3 linked regions of the Homo sapiens genome follow. The protein of the gene in region 2 interacts with the protein of the main gene of each other region in a pairwise test. Each region holds a gene or a part of one and is shown on either strand. Other genes may lie near its edges. The genes, in order: SATB1, FOXP4 and SOX5.

Evidence for each region.
Region 1: the proteins of FOXP4 (region 2) and SATB1 come close enough for resonance energy transfer, tested with the Homo sapiens proteins (one study listed by BioGRID).
Region 3: the proteins of FOXP4 (region 2) and SOX5 come close enough for resonance energy transfer, tested with the Homo sapiens proteins (one study listed by BioGRID).

The regions. Positions count from the first base shown.
Region 1 is NC_000003.12:18,418,700-18,422,452, reverse strand, and holds part of SATB1 (DNA-binding protein SATB1), read left to right. Parts: intron 1-1,461; 5' UTR 1,462-1,485; coding exon 1,486-1,696; intron 1,697-3,753. UniProt on the Homo sapiens protein: Crucial silencing factor contributing to the initiation of X inactivation mediated by Xist RNA that occurs during embryogenesis and in lymphoma.
Region 2 is NC_000006.12:41,544,628-41,548,380, forward strand, and holds the start of FOXP4 (forkhead box protein P4), read left to right. Parts: upstream 1-1,753; 5' UTR 1,754-2,240; intron 2,241-2,833; exon of another isoform or gene 2,834-2,918; intron 2,919-3,750; exon of another isoform or gene 3,751-3,753. UniProt on the Homo sapiens protein: Transcriptional repressor that represses lung-specific expression.
Region 3 is NC_000012.12:23,544,001-23,547,753, reverse strand, and holds part of SOX5 (transcription factor SOX-5), read left to right. Parts: intron 1-1,329; coding exon 1,330-1,438; intron 1,439-3,753.

The sequences.
Region 1 (3,753 bases), on a different chromosome or scaffold from region 2:
AAAGATAAATAGCCATTAATTTTTCTCAAACTTTATAGTTCTTCAATTGGCATTCTTAAGGTTGCTTTTAAACTTCCAGATTAACATTGCTGCCCCCCTTTTCTTGATTATATGGTAAGAAGTAGGCTATGGTTAAACAGAAGAAAAAATATTTACAGAAAAGCCATGCTAATACAAACTGGCTTTCAACAAATCCAGATTTAAATAGCTCCAGTGTAAGAATTTACAACAAAAACAAGCTATATCAAATTACTAGACAGCTAGGAAAAATGGTAATTATTCTCTCTGGTTTTCCTAAATATGATCCCCTTAGTTTCATAAGCTCAATACTTCAAATACCATCAAAGTTCATAAAATAATTCTACTTACCTGTTCTTATCAATTCTAATTAAAACTATACTTTAAAAATGACTTTGATATTGTCTAATCACTTTACTATAAATGATGGGAAAATTGATGTCTAATATATAACTGAAAATAATTATCTGTTAATTTTTTTGAAGTTAATTACAATGTTAATGCCATTGCATGCTGAGGTTATTTCTGAATACTGGATATTTTGTTTTACCAGTATCATCAAGGTTTTTTGTTTGTGTTTTTTTTTTTTTTAATTGAGCTTGGCACTTCAACCTAATGTGCATATCACGAAGTGTATTCAATTTTTTAAAAATATTTATTGTTAACAGCCCTCTATTACTAATGGACACCTAAATACTGACTCTAAAACACATGAGTTTTAATGCATCAGTACGTTGGATATTTGAAAACCCTTCACTTCTTCCTGTTTCTTTAGGGGTAAACTGATCCAATCACATCTTTGGCCCAAAACTTGACTAGGTCTGTCACATAACTCTTGGAACTTTGATAGTAGAAAACTTTTTCTATGCATTAATTTACAAAAGCCAATGGGGAGTTTAAAAAGCAGTTAGATGTTTGTTACCTTCTTTTGAGATGGTTTATGTTTTTTTCATAAGAATTAATATACATACACATATAAAATGTATACATATAAAACATATACATTAGATTTCTAATATTTTGAACTATGATCATCTTTCCATCCTTTATTAAAGTGTTTCTGCTGTATTTTGTAATGTGTTTCTAATTGTTAAAAATTGGGACTACGTAAATGCAATTTGCTGTTTTCTTTTTAGCTATACTTGTAATAATTCTTGTTCTAAAAGTAAGCCCATTTTTCCCCACTTAGTTTTTTTATAGGCCAGTTATCTTTTTATTCATGTGTATTGGTACAGTTTCCACAGATCATTTTGTTAATTTGAATAAGAATGTAATGCTATCATCTAGAAATATAGTAACATCTGTATCATATCTAGATAGGCCATTTTACAAATACATTATATTTGTGGAGAGATATCTAGAGCTAAAACATTTACATAGGACACATATATACACGTAGGTCCCCGCCCAACTATAACGTGTCTTCTTTTTAAATTCTGGCAGGTGATCTTTAGACAGTGACTGAGTATGGATCATTTGAACGAGGCAACTCAGGGGAAAGAACATTCAGAAATGTCTAACAATGTGAGTGATCCGAAGGGTCCACCAGCCAAGATTGCCCGCCTGGAGCAGAACGGGAGCCCGCTAGGAAGAGGAAGGCTTGGGAGTACAGGTGCAAAAATGCAGGGAGTGCCTTTAAAACACTCGGGCCATCTGATGAAAACCAACCTTAGGAAAGGTAAATACCTTCAAGCCAAATCTTGAAAAGCTGAAAGCCCTGTTGTCTACACAAGGCCACACTGTGTGGGGGTGGAGTGGCAGAACATGTTTTGTATACTCTGCCTTTATTCTCCTTATGATCGTACATTAGTTACATTCTGGGTCCTTAGTATCAATCACGTTGGAAAGTATAGCCTCCATGCTTGGGTGGAGCGTTCTACTGTAGACTGGAATCATGGAACATTTTGGGTAATAAGGACTGAATTAAATATAATGGTTTTAGTTTTGGCAGGGTCCATTCAAAAGGTGTTGTAGTCGAGGATTGTAGGCAGCTGTTTCTTCAAACTAACCTGATTAAGAATAAAACACTTAGGTGATTTGAGAGTTACCCTAGCTTCTTCCTAAGATTCTTAGTTGTAGGGCAGTTTCAGAGATCTTGGACATCTTATGTAGAAGTTTGGTAATGTTATTTTTTGTGGCTTATTTTCTTAAGAGCAAATTCATTAGCAGTAAAAAATCTGATGATTCTAGTTTTTTATTTTTGTTTTAATTGGGTATTTTTGATGAAGAAAGAACAGATTTAGGCAAGTTTATAAGGGGAAGATGTGTAACTGTGTGACTTTTTTCTACCAATATTAAATTGATGCAGTTTAACAACTTGGACTGTGTTTAACAGTGTTGTTCCTGTAAAGCAGTGCCTACCCTGGGTGTAATGCATGTGCCTCATAAGGAGCTTCATTTTGTGTCTGAATAACATGTATAGGAATCAGATTTTCCTTACATTTGCTAAGCAATGGATAAAAATGCTATATTTTAGCAACCAAGAATATTAAGTAGATAAAGTTAGAAGGCAGAGGAATTTCATTGTGTTTGATGCGTAACATTTATCATACAATCATTTATTTTTTCCTTGGTTTGGCGAAAACAAAGAATATATTGATCCTGAAATGAACAGACACAGCAGTCCGTATTGTTAGATCTTTATCTATTAAAAATGGGAAAACAGCACTTCAGCAAATTCTTTGGCCTCTACTCATGATTACCCTATTTATTGATTGTTTGCCAAGAATGTATGCATCTTAAGAAAGCCAGGGTAAGAGCATTAAAAATATAATTTATTACGGCTTTTCAAACAGAGTGCATTAATATTGTACTGTGAAGCACTGGGGCTGTATAAAAAAGACTTTCTGACGCCTGCAAACATGTAAGTTCCATAAATTCCTAAATAGGAGATTTCAGCTGTCTCTGGTATTATGTGATATTTGCACAGCAAACTTTAATGCCAGGACAGTTTTAGACAAGGATTCTACAGACTTCACTGCTCCTTATGGCAGACGTGCTGTTTACACAGGCTCATAAACCTTCAGCAAAAGCTTCTAAGACTGCCTTCAGGTTTAAATCATGTGGTATTTTTAGCATTCAGCAGTGACCAGTGCTCTCCCCTTTAAATGCTGGAAGGTTATGAAGTTGCTGTAGTTGGAACTCTCGCCAAACACTAGCACGAATAATCATACAGTTCAGAAAAGGCTTGTGTTCAGCATTACTCCCAGAAACGGGAGGGTAACCGCAACAGTTTGCTAGAAGGTCTGTAATTAGATAGTACTATTGTCACTTTATAGCCGTCTTTATTATTTTAGGGTACCTCTAAACATGATCAATAAAATCCACAATAAATCCAATATATTTCAATAGTTTGAAAACCCTGCAGTTATTTCATAGATCTAAGGAAAAGCATATTGTAGAATACATCTGATTCATCCTACAAAAGGAAAAATGAATGTGTACATTTTTGTTGTACTTACCCAACTCTTTGAAGATATCAGGACAGGAGGAGGAAAACTAAAAGTACAGTAAATTCACTTCCTGCTCAAATGCTTTTTGGTTTTGTTTTGTTTTGTTTTGGATGTATTCTAAAAATGCAGTTTAATTGTAGGAGGGTCTCAGATACTCCAAATAACAAAATTACTAAAGTCTTTTTGTGGGTTTTTATTAACATTTTCATCTTATTTTTCATGTGCATGGTTTCTGTCTGATAGGTGCTAAATGAAAATTATGGCTGAGATGAGAAAACACTAC
Region 2 (3,753 bases):
CTTGTCCTCACTGAAGTGGCTCTAGTTGGAATCTGGCTCATCACTGACCAGCAGCTGTGTAAGCCTGGGCAAGTTACTTGATCTCTTTGTGCCTCAGTTTCCTCTTCTATAAAATGGAGATAATACAAATATCTCCCTCCTGGGGTTACTGTGAAGATTAAATGGCTGGTGGGTGGTACGACTCAGATGTTAGCTGTTATTTTATTCTTATGGCTATGGTTATCTCAGTTGCCACACTGGAAAGGACACTGAGATATCCACATAAATGGCACTTAGAGTCTTCCCTGCACAATTTCACACCTAGAAATCTAAAACGCTCCAGCAGGACCTAAGTATGCCTGTCCCACCTGCCCAAAAAGGCAAATACATAAAATGTGGACCTGTGCAGGTGTCACTAACATTGCAGAAAAGGGACAGAAGTGATGAAAAACAACCCAAGAGGGTGCCTCCTCTCTGAGGTCCCCTTTTCTTTCAAGGACCACTGGAACGGCCAAGAAATCCCCTCCCCCCAGGCAACTAAGCATCAATCCTTGCAGCTCCGACCCCACACCTCAGGCTTCCAGCTCCCACTCCACAGGGGCTCACATACTATGCCAGCCTCTTGTCCACCTGCCTGAGGATTTAGGGCCAGGAGAGGCTTCAAGAGCCACTGTCTTCTTGTCCTGATCCCACAACAGGATCCTCCCTTGGTCATGGGGACCCGGCATCACTGAGCTGGGTTGGGGTACTTCATGAGGACCCCTGAGGCCTCCTTCACTTCTCCCCACCCCCAACACATGCAGACAGATGGGAGATGTTTCCGGCGTGTGTGGGGCGGGGAGGGGGACGGGTATTGAGATTTCCACGGGACTCTGAGTGGTGCGTCTGCTAACAACACAGCCCTCCCCCTTGGGCCGTGGGCATTTCCTCACCCAGACCTCCCCCTCCCAACCCAAACACACCATCGCCGCCACCACCACAATCCCTCCAGTCCCCCTGGGCAAAAGCGATGTTCAGAGACGCGGGGTTTTGTTTACAATCTAATTTGTCCGGATAATTGCCTCAACTTTGCACTTCACTTTGCCCGCATGGCTCTGGCCTTGGGCCCCTTCTTCACTGGTTCGCAGAGCACTTTACGGGAAATTCCCTTTCCGCAGAGGGAGGCAGTGCGCGCCAGGGGGTGACCGTTCACAAAGCCCTGAAGGGGCCTCCCCACCTTCTACCCTCGGCTCAGGAAGCCCACCCCCAGCCCCCACGCAGTGGGGAGCAGGAGGGAGGCCAGACAGGGCCCGGGCCTGACACTGGCTCCGTCTCTGGGCCCCCGGCCACTCCCCGCGCCGAGCGCAGCCCGCCGGGAACCAGTGAACCGTGTGGGATCAGGACTTGGCCGTACCTTCAGACTCCAGGGGATGGCCGGGGTTTGCAAGCGCCCCATAGGATTAGTCCGAGGCCAGGGTGAATCCCTGGGGTCCCTCCACCTACCATCTTTTTCAGATCTGCCGCCTCACGTCTTCTCCCCACGTTCCCATTTTTCCTCCCCTAAAGTTTGGTGCACGTGGTTTTCTCTCGCTCTCAGCGGGCTGCCAGGCGGGGTGAAAGTTGCTGCACCTGCTTTAGGCGAATTATGGTAGCACTAGAAGTTGGTCTCCCCTCCCTCCGCCGCTTGCTCTCTCGCTCCCTCCTCCCTCGCTCTCCGCGCGCTCCCTCCTTCCCTCTCCACCCTCCTCCTCCCCCGCCCCCTCCCGCCCCGCCCGCGCGCCGCCCGCTCGCAGCCACTCGCAGCCCAGGCTCAGTCGCAGCCCCTCGGAGTCCGGAGCCCGCCGTCCCTGCGGACCGGACAGTGCGGCCGGCGGCCGGCGGCCGGGACGGAGCCCCCAGCCCGCGAGGAGGGCGCGGCGCAGGCGGCGGCGGCGCGGCGGGGAGGAGCCCGGGCCGGAACCAGGGCTGGGCCGGGGGCGGGGACGCCGGGGTCCGGGAGCCCGGGAGCCGGAGCGAGCTGACGAGCGTCGCGGAAGGACCGGGAAGGAAGAGCGGAGCCGGAGCGAGCCAAGCAGCCCACAAAGTGCCATGCCCCGGCGGGGTTGAGGCGCGCGGCGGTCGGCCCGGCGCGCTGGGAGGACGCCCGGGAGCTGCGCGACGCGGGGCGGCGCGGAAGGGCAGCCCCGGCGGGCGGCGGCGGGCCCGGGCTGCGACCGGAGCGAGCCCCATGCCCCGCGCGGGCTGACGGGCCGGAGCCCGCACGGAGCGGCCGGGCGGGACAGGTAGGTGGCGGGTCGGGCCCAGGGACGTGGGTGGGGGCTGGGCGGGCGACCAGACCAACTCCCTCGCTCGCGCACTCTCTCGCCCGCTCGCTGGCTCACTTTGTGTTTGCAAACTGCCCGCCCGAGACGCGCTGGGCGCCGGGCGCCAGGAGGAGCCGGGCCCGGGCCGGCGCACTTTGTTCCAGCCAGGGCCGGCCGTGGCGCACTGACCCCGCGCAGCCGCGACATTCCGCCCCTGGCCCGGGCCCCAGCGGGCCGGAGCTGCCTCGGGAACAGGTGGGGGCTGTGGCGCGGCGGGAGTGGGGGCAGCCGGAGGCCGGGGCGGGGAGGGGGGCGGCCGGAGAGGCCACCGAGGCCCGCCCTTCCCCAAGAATCTGGGCCCCGCCCCCTCCCCGCCGGGCCTCTGGGAATGGGGTGTACGGGGGCGCGACCCCCTCCCCGCCCCGAGTCAGACAAAGAATACTTCCCGGCCCAGACTTTCCAGAGCTGGGAAGGGAAGTGGCTCCCCCCAACTCTAGTCGGTACCGGACTCCCCAGGACGCGCCGGAGACAGATGAAAATGGGGGCAAGAGAGCGGGGGATCGCGGTCCTACCCGCCGTGTCGTCTCTGGTGAAGAGGGGACTTGTCTTGCTGAGGTCGCACCTCGGAAGTGCCAGGGCCAGTCAGCCCCTTTTCCATCGCTCGGTCAGCTCGGGGATAGAGCGGAAAACTTCTTGGGGACTTGAGAGCGTCTGGAAATGGCCCCTGTGATTTGTGCGCCGGAGGTGGAGGGTGGGGAAACGATCTGGCTGACACCTCTACTCACCCGCTGTGGAGAGAGCTCCCGCTTCACCACTTAAGGGGGGAAGAGAGGGCGGCCACGGGGGCCCGGAGGCCACCAGGGAAGGAGCCCGGAGTGACCGAGCAGGACCCCCCCCCGCCCCAACTGAGGAGTCTGGTATCTCCCCTGGACAACCCCAGCACCTCTCTGACCGGCGGCGCTTCAGCCTCGGGCTCCTCATCCACGCCAAACAAACTTCCTTGGGCTGCGTCAGAGCACAGCCAGTGGCGCTAGAATGCGACCTGGGGTCCCGGCCGCCCCCATAAAGGACCGGGTAATTTCGCGGAATGCGGATTTTGAGACAGGCCCAGACGGCGGCGGATTCCCTGTGTCCCCCAACTGGGGCGATCTCGTGAACACACCTGCGTCCCACCCCGATCCTAGGTTGGGGGGAAAGGGTATGGGAACCCTGAGCCCAGAGCGCGCCCCGCTCTTTCCTTTGCTCCCCGGCTTCCCTGGCCAGCCCCCTCCCGGCTGGTTTCCTCGCTCACTCGGCGCCTGGCGTTTCGGGCGTCTGGAGATCACCGCGTGTCTGGCACCCCAACGTCTAGTCTCCCCGCAGGTTGACCGCGGCGCCTGGAGCCGGGAATAGGGGTGGGGAGTCCGGAGAACCAAACCCGAGCCTGAAGTTGCCATTCGGGTGACTCCCGAGAAAGCCCGGGAGCATTTTGGCCAATGCGGGTTTTTACCTG
Region 3 (3,753 bases), on a different chromosome or scaffold from region 2:
TTTTGTCTCCAGTTTCTCTACTGTATTTTATACTGATTGACAATTTAAAAATAGTTTTCTATTAAATAATGTACATAATTTGATGAATAGAGTACAGGAGTTCCAAGGCCACTGACTTAAGAGATTTTTTAATTTAGTATGTACAGTTGTCACATTGTCAGAGACTTCATTGAGATAAAGCATGTACTGTGTTAAGAATTTCAATATCTCATTAGTTCTTGGTGGGAACATTAGTTGGGCCCTTTACCTGTAATACAATTATCTTACATCATTGATTACTTTCTGTGAACATTTTATTGTGTCAATAGCAGTTCTGCAGTGTATGTCGTTCACTAGTATGATTCATGACTATGTTCCTCAGAAAATGAGGTGAATAATTATAAAGAAACTTGAGATAATGTTATGAGATCCAATGGATGCATTTCTTAAAACTGTTTTGGTGCTGTTTGGTACTACATCATCCTCAGAGCAGTGCTGGAGAGTTCACGAGAAAGTTATCAAGTTTCATTATATGCTTTTTCTGTTCCTAAAGTCACCCAGTTTCTTAATTTGACAGTAATGTCTCATATGGTTTAGATTAAGCATTATATTTTTCTTAAAAATAATTTATTTTGAAATGCTATGTTCTCCATGAATGTGAATCGTGCACTGCATGCTTAAACAACTTGATGTCTCTGTAGATCTAATTTTGGTATATTTGTATCTCAAATAATTCGCCAACTCAATATTTTGGCTTAGCAATCCAAATCAAATTGTGGTCCAAGTAGCAGGCACTCACATTGGATGTACAGAGACTTGACAAGCAATTAGCAATGAATATTTAAACGTCTTCATTACCCTTGCATGAGGAATGCAGATGGCATTTGGGAAGATGGCAACCAGAGGGCACTACTGTGAATTATGTTTCTATTATTTGGTCACCTGACTATTGGAAGACTTTCTCTGGGCTTCACGCCACTCCTATACTTCTACTGTCTGGCCAAAAATAAAGCAGACATTCCAAATGTAAAACAGGTTGCTTCCATGAAATTTCTGTGCACATTTTGTAATTTGGGAAGGTTGTCTCCAAGGATCCCGGCATATATCCCTTAGGCATACCAAACCCAAACGCCAAGACTTTATAGGGGTCTATGAGAATCAGAGTTCCTTCAAAAATCGTGCTGATCATCCCCTTAATGACTTCAGGTTAATGTGCTGAACGTAAAAAGGTGAATATATCAACATTGCATCCTTTCCAGGAGTTAATGTATTATATATGTGGCCCAAAAAAAGAAAGTCTTCAAATAATTTTAATTCCTAGACTGATCTCTCATTATAATTTTTTTAAAGGAAAAAACAACACTGGAGAGTCTGACTCAGCAACTGGCAGTTAAACAGAATGAAGAAGGAAAATTTAGCCATGCAATGATGGATTTCAATCTGAGTGGAGATTCTGATGGTTTGTGAAAATTGTTCATACATATTCTAATAATGCAAGAAAGTGTCTAGGTAGTGCCAATTAAAACTGCTAAAAAATAGACTAGACAGCCACCTCATACCTCATCATTACAATAAGAGGTCACATATACTGAGCAGTCCCCATGTGCCAAGCACTCTGCTGAGTGCTTTGCAGAAATCGTCTCATTTAATTCCTAGTCAACCTAGGATAAGTCCCATTGCAGAGAAAGAGCCTGAGCCTCAGGAGTTTTGAAGCATTTTCCCCAGGTCACAGGGCTCTAAGTGTCAGAGGCAAGAATTAAATTCGAGATGGCATGATTCTAAAGCAAATGCTCAAAATGCTTAGCTTCCCAGGCTCAAGTGATCCTCCCACTTTAGCCTCCCAAGTAGCTGGGATTATAGGTGCATGCCAACATGCCCAGCAATTTTGTTTTTTTTTTTTGAGATGAGGACTTACTTACTATGGTGTCCAGGCTGGTCTCAAACTCCTGGGCTCAAGTGATCCTCCCACCTCAGCCTCCCAAAGTGCTAGTTTTATAGGCGTGAGTTACTGCATGCGGCCTCACTTCCCTATTTCTTGTACCCAAAATGAACTTTTTCAGAAATTTGTTTCTATTGGCTCATTTTTTAAGTTTCTATTTGTCAAGCCCTCACCAGAATACATGGCTCAGAGGACATTTCCACGATAGTTTCTTACATTTTGGAACCCTTCTCCCTAGTGCTATGTACTACATAGTCAAGTGTCGGGCCCACTCTCTATAACCTAACTAGAAACCAGCTGCACAGCTTTATGCTCCCTTCTCATAGGCCTTCAGACTTCTGTTTTCTGTATCATCTCTGAACATTCTAAACATCCACAGTGAGAAGAAATTAAATTGATACTCTGATTTTTAATAGCGTAGCAAAGAGGGAAAAAGAAGGAAGTGCTGTTCTTCTTATACAATACCCTGACCGGGAACATCTCTCTACTGTCAGGTGGCATCCATGCATTTTAAGCATTCCTTTGGCAGTACCGCCCTCAACTTTGTTACTACTACAGGGAAGTTCCCTGCATATAGAGAAGAGTGCACAAAGGCAAACCAGTGAGATGCATACTTTGAGAGGGGGTCCCCTTGAATCCTCCAATATACACAACTGTTTACTCTGTGCCTTGGGCCAATTCTACTTTTAAGACCAGGTCTATACTAATCAAGGGACTAAACAAACCTGAACGTTGAAACACGTAATTCTATCAAAACTGAATTTTACTCAATTGGATTCAATTTGCATTTTTCTGGGTCTAATGTTGCAAACATTTTCTTCTATTTTCAGCTCCACTTAGCTAAGATAAACCTAGCCTATGTACATTTAAAGAGCTTGTTTAGATTTGATGAAGACACATAATGTTCATTTTATTGCTTATGTTGCTGTAAGGTGTAAGAACAAGAAAAGGCAGATGTGCAAATGATCACTTGCTAGTTACAAACCCATTTTAGGAAGATGTTGCCATATATTTGCACTTATTTTGTCAATAAAAGACAATTACGGGTAATAACACATTTCATAAATTTTAAGTTGTATTAGCATGATAAAATATACCCACAGTAATCAGCATTAACACATCAAAGTTTTTGTTGCTGTCATTACCTAAATTCAATCATGCTTGTATGTGAAATATTTTCTACTTTTCATTAAATCAAAGAGCATGTTATTAATGAAAAATATTGAGAAACTTCACCAACAGGTATGCTATGTTTTGAATGTGCTGCTATAGAGGTCTTCAAGTTTGGGCAATTTTGTTTGATTCCTGTGTCTCCAAATTTAAAAATAAAGAAAAGATGAGGAATGAATACAAAGCAAGAAAAGAAAAGCAGTGCTTTTGTTGATAATACAGTCTCTACAAGTCCCCAAAGTATTTTTAAAGTTTTGGATACTATCAAAATACATCTACTTATTTTGTGATAATACCCAGTGAAAACCTACTGTCAGAGTTCTACTGGTTCTCCTTATTTTCTCTTTGCCTAAACTCAAGTATCTTGGAAGCAATTTAATCTGCTGAAGCCATTCTAAGGGGTCACATAAGGCTGGAGGAGTGAATGCAGCTTCCAAAGCTATCGTTGTTAACTCTTGAATTGTGTTTTATCATCTGTGAATCTTACTGATTGAAATGTGACTGTCCATGGGACTCTTTGGATAACTTTAAATATTAGGGGGAAAATTCAAAGGAAATTATTATTTTTCTCATCTTAAACATGTGACTGTAGACTCCTTAAGAAACTAGAGGAATGTAACTGTTCATTTGTTCTTTTCCATACCAGTTTTACATATATTTTGGGG